Linked DNA regions of Homo sapiens. The protein of the gene in region 4 interacts with the protein of the main gene of each other region in a pairwise test. Each region holds a gene or a part of one and is shown on either strand. Other genes may lie near its edges.

Region 1 (3,593 bases), on a different chromosome or scaffold from region 4:
TGACAGAAGACAGACACCATTACATTCAAAGTCAGATTGTCTTTTATTTATTTATTTATTTATTTATTTATTTGAGACAGGGTCTTGCTCTATCACCTACAGATGGGGTTTCACCACGTTGGGTCTGGTGACCCAAATCTTTGGGTGATTTTTCTGCTGGAAGAGGACAAACACCATTACATTCAAAGTCAGATTTTCTGTTTTTTTTTTTTTTTTGTTTTTGTTTTTTTAATATTCATTTGTTTATTCATTTGAGACTGGGTCTTGCTCTGTCACGCAGGCTGGAGTGCAACCTCCCTGGGCTCAGTTGATCTTCCCTCAGCCTCTTGAGTAGCTGGGACTACAGGTGTGTGCCACCATGCCCAGCTAGTGTTTGTATTTTTTGTGGAGATGGTGTTTTGCCGCATTGCCCAGTGTGGTCTTGAACTAGTGCTCAAGAGGCCTGCCTCCTTCAACCTCTCAAAGTGTTAGGATTACAGATGTGAACTACTGTGCCTGATCCAAAGTCAGATTTTCTTTGCTTACTTAGTCAAGTTCGTCTATGCTTTTATTATACTTAATATATTAGTATAGTTACTGTATTAGTATATTAGCATATTTAATATATTATTATACTTATCATACTTGAGTATATTGAGTATATTTACACTTTTAGTATATTTGTATACACACACCACATTTTTATTATTTATCTTTTTTTTGAGACAGAGTCTCCCTCTGTCTCCCAGGCTGAAGCACAGTTGGCTCACTGCAACCTCTGCCTCTTGGGCTCAAGTGATTCTCGTGCCTCACCCTCCTGAGTAGCAGGGATTACAGGTGTCCACCACCAAGCCTGGCTAATTTTTGTATTTTTAGTGGATATGGGGTTTTACCATGTTGGCCAGGCTGGTCTCGAACTCCTGACCTCAAATGATCTGCCCGCCTTGGCCTCCCAAAGTGCTGGAATTACTGGCGTGAGCCACTGCACCCAGCCTATTATCTGTCTTTTGATGGACATTTAAGTTGTCTCTATATACTAGCTATTGTGAATAATGCTGCAGTGAACATGAGAGTGCTTGAAAACACTAATGTAACATAAAGGTAACAAATAATAAATGTCATGTGTTTATCTTGAAAGGAACTGAAATACGACGTTGGTGGAGGAGAACGGTTTGATTCTTTGACAGATCTTGTGGAACATTATAAGAAGAATCCTATGGTGGAAACATTGGGTACAGTACTACAACTCAAGCAGGTGAGCAGATTGGAAAGCTCAAGCTTTCTCCTTAAAAACTTAAAACAAATCCTAATAGAGAATTTTGCAAACATACAGAGGTAGACAGAATAGTATCATCAGCCTCCATGTACCCATTGCAGCTTCAACTATCAAATCTTTTTTTTTTTTTTTTTTTTTGAGACAGTCTTACTCTGTCACCCAGTCTGGAGTACAGTGTTGCAATCTTGGCTCACTACAACCTCTGCTTCCTGGGTTCAAGCGATTCTCCTGCCTCAGCCTCCTGAGTAGCTGGGACTACAGGTGCCCACCACCATGCCCGGCTAGTTTTTGTGTTTTTAATAGAGATGGGGTTTCACCATGTTGGCCTGGCTGGTCTTGAATTCCCGACCTCAGGTTTTCTGCCCGCCTTGGCCTCCCGAAGTTTTGGGATTACAGGCGTGAGCTACCACGCCCGGCCCTAAATCTTTTCTTATTATGATTCCACTCACTGACTGCCGCTATAGTACTTGGAAACATATTCCAGATTTATATTATTCCCATATTTATCTGTAAAAGGCATTACAGAGGTTCTTTTTTTTTTTTTTTTTTTTTGAGATGGAGTTTTGCTCTGTCGCCCAGGCTGGAGTGCAGTGGCGTGTTCTTGGCTCACTGCAACCTCTGCGTCCCGGGTTCAAGAGCTTCTCCTGCCTCAGCCTCCTGAGTAGCTGGGATTATAGGTGGTGCCACTACACCCAGCTAATTTTTGTATTTTTAGTAGAGATGGGGTTTCACCATGTTAGCCAGGCTGGTCTTGAACTCCTGACCTCAAGTGATCTGCCTGCCTCAGCCTCTCAAAGTGCTGGGATTATAGGCATGAGCCACTGCATCTGGCCTAAGGCTGTACAGAGTTTTAAAGCAAGTTTTCATTATAGATCCACTTCTGGTTACCTTTAGGTAACCTCACTTATTCACTTTGGCATTGTTGCTATTTCAAATTTCACCTTTATGATAGTGGAAAATGATATAATCTCTCTAAATAATGTGGTCTATTCATAAAGAAAAATAGGCTTGAATTTATATCAGCAGAGTAAAGTGTATGTGAAGACTGAAGAAAGATACATTTTCTGGCTGAACAGAAAACACGGTGAAACGATTTGAAAACTTTTATTGTGAATTACAGGGTCCTATGAACCCTCTGTCCGTGCCTTTATGAATATCAACATAGACATGTTTTTTTTTTTTTTTTTGCATTAACACCGTTTTCTGTAATATTTTCTTTATTTTACATCAACTGCTGTACTCGATCAGCCCCTTAACACGACTCGTATAAATGCTGCTGAAATAGAAAGCAGAGTTCGAGAACTAAGCAAATTAGCTGAGACCACAGATAAAGTCAAACAAGGCTTTTGGGAAGAATTTGAGGTAAGTTATTAAAAAACTGTTTTTACGTGAGTTGTTATATCCTATTTTTAGTGGAGGAGAAGTTGCTCTTGTGTTTGGAATTGGACCTGAGAGACTTGAAACTGACGTCCTTTTTTAATTCGGCCATTGATTGACACGGAGCAAGTTGCTGAGAGGGCTTCTTCGAAACAGAAGAGCATTGTGTTCTGAGGGAAGGGAGTTGGCAGTGAGTAGTCAATGGATGTGCTAGCCGCTCCATTTGGCTCTTTTGGTTTGGACTGGTGGCAAAATCTCAGAGAAACAAAAGGATCTAATTTCTTCGAAAGATTTCCAGCATGCACTGGGGTCTTTAGAAACAATCTATAGCCTTAGTGCAGCAAATGAGTATGAGTAAAAGAGAAACACCTTGTGGTGGCTTTTTTTTTTTTTTTTTTGAGACAGGGTCTCGCTCTGTCGCCGAAGCTGGAGTGTAGTGGCGTGATCTCGGTTTACTGCAGCCCCGTCCTCCCTGGGCTCAAGTGATCTTCCCATCTCAGCCTACTGAGTAGCTGGGACTACAGGCACATGCCCCTATGCCTGGCTAATTTTTGTATTTTTGGTAGAGATGAGGTTTTGCAGTGTTGCCCAGGCTGGTCTTGAACTCTTGGGCTCAAGTGATCCTCCTACTTAAGCTTCCCGAGTAGCTGGGACTACAGGCACACGATACCATGCCCATCTAATTTTTGTATTTTTTTGTAGAGATGGGGTTTTGCAGTGTTGCCCAGGCTGGTCTTGAACTCTTGGGCTCAAGTGATCCTCCAGCTTTGACGTGCCAAATGTGGTGGCTTTAATTTCAGAGTTCAAATTGATAACTCTGGTAAGTTAAGTGAACTGATTTCTTTTTTTTTTAAATTATTTTTGTTGATTATACTTTAAGTTCTGGGATATATGTGCAGAACGTGCAGGTTTGTACATAGGTATACATGTGCCATCATGGTTTGCTGCACACATTAACCCA
Region 2 (3,593 bases), on a different chromosome or scaffold from region 4:
CCCCAGCTCTAAGGATCTCTGCCTAGTCCAGACAGATCATGTATTCCCAAAAAATATCTTTGTCCTACATGTGCAGTGTTTTTTACACTGAAATCCAAAATCTTTCTGCTATTTTCTGGCTCTTCCATGAAAACTCACCCCCTTGGGGCAATGGGAATCTCACAGCAGGATGGCTGTACCATGTGAGACATGGAATGCAGCAGGATGTGACAGTTTCTTTCAGAACATCCCTTTTTAAGAATGAAAAAGTTGCCAGGCGCAGTGGCTCACGCCTGTAATCCCAGCACTTTGGGAGGCCGAGGTGGGTGGATCACCTGAGATCAGGAGTTCGAGACCAGCCTGGCCAACACGGTGAAGCCCCATCTCTACTAAAAATAAAAAAATCAGCCGGGTGTGGTGGCACACACCTGTAATCCCAGCTACTCGGGAGGCTGAGGCAGGAGAATCGCTTGAACCCAGGAGGCAGAGGTTGCAGTGAGCCAAGATGGTACCAGTGTACTCCAGTCTGGGCGACAGAGCAAGACTCAGTCTCAAAAAAAAAAGGAAAAGAAAAACTTTCCGGCTGGGCATGGTGGCTCACACCTGTAATCCCAACACTTTGGGAGGCCAAAGCAAGATTGCCTAGGCCAGGAGTTCGAGACCAACCTAGGCAACATAGTGAGAGCCCGTCTCTATAAAACAAAAAAAAACAAAAAAAGTAAATAAAAGAATGAAAGGCCAGGCACAGTGGCTCACGCTTGTAATCCCAGCATCTTGGGAGGCCGAGATGGGTGGATCATTTGAGGTCAGGAGTTCGAAACCAGCCTGACCAACATGGTGAAACCCCACCTCTACTAAAAATATAAAAATTAGCCAGGCGTGGTGGCAGGCGTCTGTAATCCCAGCTACTTGAGAGGCTGAGGCAGGAGAATCACTTGAACCCAGGAGGCAGAGGTTGCAGCGAGCTGAGATTGTGCCACCGCATTCTAGCCTGGGTGACAGAGCGAGACTCTGTCTCAAAAAAAATTTTTAAAAATGAAAAACTTTCCCTGAAGCCCCCTGGCAGAACTTCCTGCCTTACAGTTCATTGCCATTCAGCCATTATAACCAGACTACATGGATAATATGGCCACTAATGGGTCCAGAACGCTCCAGGGAAGAGAACAAAGAAATGATGACTTCAATCTACACGACATTCATTTCCTTAACCAGAGGTTTAGAAGAAGGTGGTCTCTGGGAAGAAGGTGGTCTCTGGGAAGAAGGTGGTCTCTGGGAGGTTTGGTGGCTCCCTGGCTGCCTGTGGCCTCATTATTGCAGATGACTGCAACAGCTTCAATCTCATGTTCTCATTCAAAGTAGGAAAACGTGGGGCAAAGGGGAGCCATGAGGCTGGGCGCGGTGGCTCACACCTGTAATCCCAGCACTGTGGGAGGCCGAGGCGGGCAGATCACAAGGTCAGGAGATCGAGACTATCCTGGCTAACATGGTGAAACCCCCGTCTCTACTAAAAATACAAAAAATAAATAAATAAATAATTAGTTGGGCATGGCGGCGGGCCGCTATAGTCCCAGCTACTCTGGAGGCTGAGGCAGGAGAATGTCGTGAACCCAGGAGGCGGAGCTTGCAGTGAGCCGAGATTGTGCCACTGCACTCAGCTTGGGCGACAGAGCAAGACTCTGTCTCAAAATAAAAAAAAAGGGGGGGGGCAGCCAGGAAATGCCCCTCTCGTGGCTCCTTTCATCAGAAGCCTCTCACCCCACCCCCAGCAGCTCTTACATCTCACTGGCCAGAACTGGCTGACATAACGCCCCCAGCTGCAAAGGAGCCCAGGAGAATATGTGACCTTTTTCAGCCTCTAGAGTGGCAGGTGAACAAGTGAGAAGGGGTGAGAATGGCTGCTGGCTTAGCTAACCAGCTGAGCTTCCTGCATCTGCCAAGATTTCCACCTTGACTCACTCCCATGGCTGGGGCTGGGACCCATCTGCCCTCAGACAGAGAGAGTAGATCCCTCGACAAAAGCAGAAGGAGTAAGCAGGGTAAATAGCAACCAGCAGTCTCATCTCTACCTCCTCCCCACCAGGAAGGCCTGCTGCCAGGTTGAGTGCCTTGAGCAGCATCTGGGACACCCTCGGCCCTCGATAAACTGGAGCTATTCTTGGTTCCCTCCCCTCTACCTTCCCCCTCCACACAGCTGCCTACAGAGCATCTATAGATTGAGTTCTCAAGTTACAGTAGAATAATGCTGGAGTAACAAGACACTCAGACACTGAAGATCCAGGCAGCCTTCCTGTGGAGAACCTACAGAGCTGTCTCAGGTTACTGCAGAAGGAGGCAGGAGCAGCTGAGTAACCAGGTTCCCTGCCGAGTGGCCCAGGATCTGGCCTGCAAATCCCTACCAGGTGGACAGATGTTGAGACAGCACTCCTTTCCCGTCCTTCCTCTGCCCTTCACCTGGCAGCCCAGGCCCACTGAGACAGAGGGAGAGCAGCTGATGGAGGACTTGGAGCTGGCTGGAGGGAGGGAGAGGCTGGCCTTGGTGTATCCCCTGGAGTGCCAAGAGGAGGGGCGTGGTGAAAGGGAACTCTGGACTGCCTCCATGCCCCAAAGTGCATTTCCCCAGTGACCACCTCGCTTTGAAACCCTGTGCAACTTGATAGGTTTTTGGTGCCCCTAAACTTTAGACTGGAATCTGGGCCATTTTATGTTCAGGTCCCATTTCATGGCTGGCATGGGCTGCCCTCTCCGGCCTATTGTTTTCCCAGCTAACTGCCCTCAGCCTTGAAGACTCAGCAACGCCTCCTCAGGAAGCCTGTTAGTGCTCCCATGGTACCCAGGCTGTAGGCCTCACCAGAGCCCACCTCGTGCATTGTTACCCGCTTCTGCATCCATCGCCACCTCTAGAGCCTAATTCCCTTTGTGTCCCATTCTCACCCAGGGCTGTGTCTGGCTCACATGAGAGTCTGAGGATTATAAACAGAATTTGGAATCACACAGATTTAGGTTTGAGTCCATTTACCATGTGACCTTGCCAAGTCTCTTAGCCTCTCTACTCCTTTATAAAATTGGAAATGATTATACTATTAATAGGGCAACCAGACTTGGCATTACTCCTGAATGGCACAATTTGATATGTATAGCACCACCCAATCTTGCCAAGAAATTGAACAACAGTCTGGACAAGGCCCTGGATCTACCTACCAGTTTATAAGAAATAATGATAGAGGAAAGTGGTGAACATAACCACAGGGAACAAGAGCGCAATCAGCCTAATCTGAACGCACCAATCCTACAGGACAAGGGACCTGCTTTCTTCCACAGAATGAGGGCCTGAAGAGTACCAGGGTCGGGGTGGAGGGGGCAGAAATTACTGTCAGATTAAAAGAAGTAAGACATTTCAACCAAAAGCAATGATGGACCTTGTTTGGACCCTCAATCAAAGTAAATGTAAAGAAATCTCTGAGACAACCAAAATGAAAAAGGAGCACAGGCCCGGTGCAGTGGCTCACCCCTGTAATCCCAGCACTTTGGGAGACCAAGAAGGGTGGATTACCTGAGGTCAGAAGGTCAAGACCACCCTGGCCAGCGTGGTGAAACCCCGTCTCTACTAAAAATAC
Region 3 (2,809 bases), on a different chromosome or scaffold from region 4:
GATCATTTTATATCAATATAAAAATGGTTTTCTCATTCTTTTATAGCTGCAGTGTGTTCCATTGTATTTATCCTCTTGCAGATGAAGAAACTAAGATTCCAAGGGTTAAGTAAGACTGGTCCAAGATCACACATCTGGGAAATAGCAAAGCCATGATATGAACCCAAACCTGTTCATTACCTTCCCTTCTGCCAATTTGAGGGGCAGAGGTAAAGAGGAGAGCAAAGAAGCCACCTCTAGGAGGGCTTGAAGCCCAGAGGATGGGTCAGCCACAGATTTCGTGGAAGATATGTTCAATACACACCCCTCAATGGAGGGAGGGGAGAGCAACTTCCTCTTAATATATGAAGGATCACTTCTTAATATATGAAGGACCACTTATTACATGATTCATGTGCCTCTATTCTTTTTTACCTGTGAAAGGGAGGGAAGAGTAACTGCTGCTTCTCTTCTGCACTAGGAAGCAGCATAGTATAATGAACCAAGTACCAGATTGTTTTTTTGTTGTTCTTGTTATTTTTTGAGACAGAGTCTCGCTCTGTCGCCCAGGCTGGAGTGCAGTGGCCCAATCTCGGCTCACTGCAAGCTCCGCCTCCCAGGTTCACGCCATTCTCCTGCCTCAGCCTCCTGAGTAGCTGGGACTACAGGTACCCACCACCATGCCCGGCTAATTTTTTATTTTTATTTTTAGTAGAGACGTGGTTTCACCGTGTTAGCCAGGATGGTCTCGATCTCCTGACCTGGTGATCCACCCGCCTTGGCCTCCCAAAGTGCTGGGATTACAGGCGCCCATCACCACACCCGGCTAATTTTTTGTATTTTTATTAGAGATGGGGTTTTACCGTGTTAGCCAGGATGGTCTCGATCTCCTGACCTCATGATCCACCTGCCTTGGCCTCCCAAAGTGCTGGGATTACAGGTGTGAGCCACCACGCCTGGCACCAAGTACTAGATTGTTTTAAGTACTCTACATGAATTAACTCATTTAATCCTCATAACGACCTCATTTTACAGATGATGAAACTGAGGCACAAACTGCTTAATGAACTTGTCCATGGTAAAGAAGAAAGGACCCTGGATAAGAGAGGAAAAGGACCTGGATTCTAGTCCTGCCACTATTGCCGACTGACCTGAGCAACTCTCTTCCCCTAATCTGTTGTGATTTTCCCTTTGTAAAATGGGAAGCCTGGACCAGACAATCACTGAGTCTTCCTTTAGCTCCCTGATGATTTTTACTGCTTAAGCCAACTTCTATCTGAAACCAGTATTCCCCAGGAGTTTAAGATGGCAGGCTAAGTTACATGAGCAGGAACATATTTATTTTGGGAAAACCTATTGGGAGAAAATGCAAGGCTGCATGATGGTCAGGAGGCTGGTGGGACAACTGACTGCTGGACCACAATCAGAAGTGACAGGAAGACTAATTTTAGCTCAATAGGAAGAATATTTTATTTTAGCGAGCTACCTGGAATCCTGTATCAAAAGTAACAAGAGCAGGCCAGGTGTGGTGGCTCACGCCTGTAATCCCAGCACTTTGGGTGGCCAAGATGGGTGGATTATCTGAGGTCAGAAGTTCGAGACCAGCCTGGCCAACATGTTGAAACCCTGTCTCTACTAAAAATACAAAAAAAATTAGCTGGGCATGGTGGCTCACACCTGTAATCTCAGCTACTCGGGGGGCTGAGGCAGGAAAACTGCTTGAGCCTGGAGACAGAAGTTGTAGTGAGCCAAGATTGCGCCACTGCACTCCAGCCTGGGTAACAGAGTAAGACACCATCTCAAAAAAAAAAAAAGAAAAAAAAAGTAACAAGAGCATATGTATTAGGGAAAATGGAAAGAAAAGACCTGCATTTGGGTTAAGAAATTCAAAGGTGCCTTCTAGATTAACAGTAGTTCATGTGAAAATACCCCTAAGGATTTTTTTTTTTTTTTTTTTGAGACGGAGTCTCACTCTTTCACCCAGGCCAGACTGCAGTGGCGCTATCTCGGCTCCCGGGTTCACGCCATTCTCCTGCCTCAGCCTCCCGAGTAGTTGGGACTGTAGGCGCTCGCCACCGCACCCGGCTAATTTTTTTGTATTTTTAATAGAGACGGGGTTTCACCGTGTTAGCCAGGATGGTCTCAATCTCCTGACCTCATGATCTGCCCGCCTCCGCCTCCCAAAGTACCCCTAAGGATTTTAGGTGATGGCAAAGTCTGAATGAAAGGAGAGTAAGGGCCAGGCGCAGTGGCTCACGCCTGTAATCCCAGTACTTTGGGAGGCTGAGGCGGGCAGATCACCTGAGGTTAGGGGTTCAAGAACTGCCTGGCCAACATGGTGAAACCCTATCTCTACTAAAAATACAAAAAGTTAGCTGGGCCTGGTGGTGGGCGCCTGTAATCCCAGCTACGCGGGAGGCTGAGGCAGGAGAATCGCTTGAACCCAGTAGGTGGAGATTGTAGTGAGCTGAGATCCTGCCATTGTACTCTCCAGCCTGGGCAACAAGAGTGAAACACTGTCTCAAAAAAAAAAAAAAAAAAAAAAAAAGTGGAGAGTAAGAAGGCTGCGAGGAGAGCTCACACATCCTTGGTTTGTATGAAGAAAAGGACAGTACCCTCTACCAGGGCCATCCCCTCATTGACAAACAGGAAGAGAAGGACAGTACCCTCAACCAGGCCCCCCAACCTTGAGACCTCATCTCTATATTTTTTTAATTTTAATTATTTATTTATTTGTTTGAGACGGAGTCTCACTCTGTCACCCAGGCTGGAGTGCAATGGCGCGATCTTGGCTCACTGCAACCTCCGCCTCCCAGGTTCAAGCGATTCT
Region 4 (4,187 bases):
TTCAGTGAGATGGTGTAAATTGCACATTATTTATGCAGCCTAAATGAAATTAAAGATTTATATATTTTAGATAATTCGATATCTATGTTTTAGACATTTAGGACCAAAGTCTACTGTAGAGTGAAAGTTTAGGGAGAAAGGGTATTTTGTGTGTTTGCTAAAGGTGAGAGTTCAAGAGGCTGAAAGGGTTGTTAGCAAGCTTTTGGTCTGAGTGGTATTTTTAAACTATCTAGCATGACTGAATTATTAATTGTAATTACTGTATTGATTATATTATCAATGGACCAAATTGTTAATTGCATAAATGCCAACTGAATGATCATTTTTCATATTGTGTAATTGGCATAACATACAGGTTCAGCCAGGCATGGCAGTCGGTACCTGTAGTCCTAGCTAATTGGGAAGCTGAGGTGGGAGGATCCCTTGAGCCTAGGAGTTTAAGACCAGCTTAGGCAACATAATGAGACCCTGTCTCAAAAAAAAATACAAGTTCAAATCAGATGGTGCCAACCAGTAGATATATAGCCAAATGATGACAGATTTATATTTCATCTCCCTTTTAATTATTATCCATCTTTTAGACCTCAGCATGAAGGAAATAGTAAATTGCCAATGAAAACCATTACAAATGGCTGGGCGTGGTGGCTCATGCCTCTAATCCCAGCCCTTTGGGAGGCTGGAGTGGGAGGATCACTTGAGCCTAGGAGTTCAAGACCAGCCTGGATAACACAGCAAGACCCTGTCTCTCCAAGAAAATAAAAAGGGGAAAAAATAGAAAATCTTTACAAAGATTTGCATGGAGGAGAAAGTAAACAGAATAAAATGAATGGATCAAGGAAAAAGGATTTATGAGAATGTACAAAAGAGCAGAGGAGAACAGAACGGTAATGAGTCTTGCCAAGGTGCCTGGAGGCAAAGGAATGAGAAACGAAGACAGACTCTTTCTTATAAACTTATCAATGAAATAAAACCATAGTCCAAATGTCCATCTATTTGGGTAAGTTCTCAAGAAATGCAGAGATAAGCAGAAAATATGAAGCCTGGCTTATAATGGTCAAAACAATTCAAGGAGAGCAAAACAACGGTCCCACCAAATCTGCCTATTAAATTAAGCTGTTAAGTCATGGGAATCATGGATAGTGATCCAACAGGATATACTCAGAAAATGAGAAAAATACTATTGAAAGCTGTTCCACAGCTCTGTTTGTGTTACCTTCGCAACAACTCAGGCAAGTGTTACTGCAGTTTTTATCTTTCTCAAGATTACAGCTGAGAAACTGACTTTTAGAGAGAGGAGATTAAGATGTTTGTGTAATGACAGATAACAAGTTAGAGGCAAAGCTAGAATTAGCAGACTGGAACTAGTTACTAGAATTCCTAGGAGTTATGACACAAGTGAATTGTCACTGCAATTAACTGGCCTGGCTAAACAAAGTTAGCATAAATTTTCAACCACTTTGGAAAACAATTTAGCTTTCTTAGAATTAATGTTGAAAATGTTCATTCTCTAATATCTGGCATTTCACTTCTACCTTAAGACAGTCAAGGACGTGCGTGCCAGGTTACATAAATAAAGAGTTCACAGCAATATTATCACAATAACTCCAAACTGGAAACAACTCAAATGTTTATCAACAGCAGAATGGATGATAAATTGTGGTATAGTTATACATTTGAATTTCATAAAGCAAAGAAAATATATGAACTATAGCTACACAGAAAATGGGTAGATCTCACAAATATAATTGTTGGGTGAAAGAAGAATTTACAAAAGAAACAGAGAATATGACTCCATTTATATGATGTCAAAAATAGGGAGGTTAATCATATTGTTTAGGCATGCAGACATAGATGGTCAAATTATAAAGAATAACAGGGACAAGAGGATCCCAACATCTTGGGGCAGAATGGGGGTTGATCAAGAATGGGCTTCTGGGTGCTGGCAATGATCTGTTTCTTGACCTGGATGATAATTATAGAAGTGTTGCCTTTCAGTTATTGTTTAAACTGTGTATGTTTATGCACTCTTAACTTTTTTTTTTTCAGTCATTTCTGAATTAGCAGGCTACCCATCACACTTCTTTCTTTCTTGGGATTTACCTCTTACTACTTCTTGCACTTTAATGGTGACCTTGAATATTTGTTGTTTTATGTGATTTTAGATGAATAAAACATGAAGAGTTAAGGTGAGAATTTCTAGTGAATTCAATTCAATCAACACATATGCTAACTGTAAGGTGTGGTGTGAACATTCCTTTCACACACATTTATACACTTTAGGAAGAATGAACCAGTTAGGCAGAAATTCAGATCAGCCAAGTTCCATTTTTCTGCTTTTAACCAATAAAGACACTTTGGGTTTCATTTTAAACATTCCCTGAAGTCAAGGTCATGCCATATGATCCAGTGATTGCAAATGGATGAACTAAAACCCAAAAAGCTCTGAATAAATTGTGCAGGAAGTTTGACATTGGCTTTCTTTGAATGGAGACTTAGAGAAGATAGAAAAAAGACCATCTTCCATAATACAAGAAAGAAAAAAAATTTTTTTTTACTAGGAAGGGAGAAAATGCATACCCTTAGGAGAAAAAAAAAGGAAAACAGAAAGCAATAGTACTCACTTTATATCTTAAGGCATGCTGTATCCAAGGGGCATTGCCTATTTCATTAAGAAATGCAAACATTCCTCTGCCTTTCTCATTTGCAGCTTGTACACACACACACACCGTATGCTAAGCATAAAAATCCTGCAGTTACCTGAAGAGGATCAAAGACACACCCTGGCTATGGCAGGTTTCTCCTCGCTGTCTCCAACTTGAGCTCCAACTCCTTCTCCCCTCCCAGGCTGTCTGGACTCCTGGACTCTGGGCAGCGCCTAAAGTAGTCCGTGGAAGCTGGCAATCACTGTGATGTCACTGATGAAACATCTCAAAGGAACACCCTCCGAAGGTTCGAGGCTATTTGTGTTCGGGGGACATGGAAATATGTTGACTAAGACTTTGTTCCTTTGGCTGCCAATTTGCCACCACCAGGATTTAAAAACCTTCTGTTTCCAGTTGACTTTTAGTGCAATTGATGTGGGTTTTAAATGTGTCTTTTACATCTTCATGAATAACTTTAACATGTCTTTAAAACATCATAAACCAAGAATGATAGACTAATTTTAACCAATCGATGCTGCATTTGACTGCTCTCCCTAGTCAGCCTGTGAGGTGTAAAAATGTGACTTCATTTTACCACCCATATCTTTAGTTATTTGAAATGTGAAGAGTTTGCTGCCTTACACCCACACATATGCACACCCATACACACACACACACACTCCAGAATTCAATAGGCATCTTTAGCTCTTTCAAAACTGACTTTAGTCCAAGCAGTGAAAGCTATCCCCTCCGTCACCTGCTCCACGTAACTTTCCAGCTAAGCTGTGCATTGCAAGTTTACACGTGGATCTACAGTTTCATCTGAAACAGCCGAGGAAGTCATGGTTTGTATATCTCTGGCAATAAATTAATAGAGCAGTAAACTCACACAGTTCAACTCAGTTATTTGGATAGATTGGGAGTGGAAGGAGAACTGGGTAAAATTAGTGAAAAATGTGAATTATAGAATATATCTGAAAGAAAGAAAAGTATTATATAACTTTCTAATATGAACACTAACTAAAATTAGACTAAGATGAGTTTGTAACCAATGTATCACATGTTTGGAGCCCCTGAAGTGTTAAATTAGACTTGAAAGCAGATCAATTAAGTACTTTAAACATGACCCTAGCAATTGTGTTTGCTCAGCAGATCCTTTCTTTATAGATAATAGAGGAAATCTCCCCCTCTGAATTCCCAATTAGGGTCAATCAAAATAATGCATTCCCAAAAGGCATAAACAAACAAAATTCTCTATGCAGTTATGCTCATAGTCAAACCTTTCCCTCCATTCCTCATACCCCAGAGACATTACCAAAACAAGACTTTCCATTTCATTTCCTCATTTTAACATAAGCTTAGCAACGGGTAATCTTAATACAACATTCTGTCACCACTTGTCTTGTGAAAAGAGCGCTTGCTGAAGTGACAGAGAGTGTATAATAATTATAGTGCAACCGAACATTGGCAGTTATCTGTTGCCATCTGGCAAACTCCTTGAATGTAATCAGAGTTCTGTCTTCTGCCTCCAAGCTCTCACTAGAT

What was found.
Region 1: the proteins of SLN (region 4) and PTPN11 interact in a two-hybrid assay, tested with the Homo sapiens proteins (one large-scale study listed by BioGRID and IntAct).
Region 2: the proteins of SLN (region 4) and KASH5 interact in binary tests that used the Homo sapiens proteins (3 or more experiments, as listed by UniProt).
Region 3: the proteins of SLN (region 4) and TMEM79 interact in binary tests that used the Homo sapiens proteins (3 or more experiments, as listed by UniProt).

Annotation. Positions count from the first base shown.
Region 1 is NC_000012.12:112,453,447-112,457,039, forward strand, and holds part of PTPN11 (tyrosine-protein phosphatase non-receptor type 11), read left to right. Parts: intron 1-1,117; coding exon 1,118-1,234; intron 1,235-2,503; coding exon 2,504-2,617; intron 2,618-3,593. UniProt on the Homo sapiens protein: Acts downstream of various receptor and cytoplasmic protein tyrosine kinases to participate in the signal transduction from the cell surface to the nucleus. Positively regulates MAPK signal transduction pathway. Dephosphorylates GAB1, ARHGAP35 and EGFR.
Region 2 is NC_000019.10:49,401,710-49,405,302, forward strand, and holds part of KASH5 (protein KASH5), read left to right. Parts: intron 1-3,593. UniProt on the Homo sapiens protein: As a component of the LINC (LInker of Nucleoskeleton and Cytoskeleton) complex, involved in the connection between the nuclear lamina and the cytoskeleton.
Region 3 is NC_000001.11:156,287,325-156,290,133, reverse strand, and holds part of TMEM79 (transmembrane protein 79), read right to left. Parts: intron 1-2,809.
Region 4 is NC_000011.10:107,709,206-107,713,392, forward strand, and holds the start of SLN (sarcolipin), read right to left. Parts: upstream 2,852-4,187; 5' UTR 2,758-2,851; intron 1-2,757. UniProt on the Homo sapiens protein: Reversibly inhibits the activity of ATP2A1/SERCA1 and ATP2A2/SERCA2 in sarcoplasmic reticulum by decreasing the apparent affinity of the ATPase for Ca(2+). Also inhibits the activity of ATP2A3/SERCA3.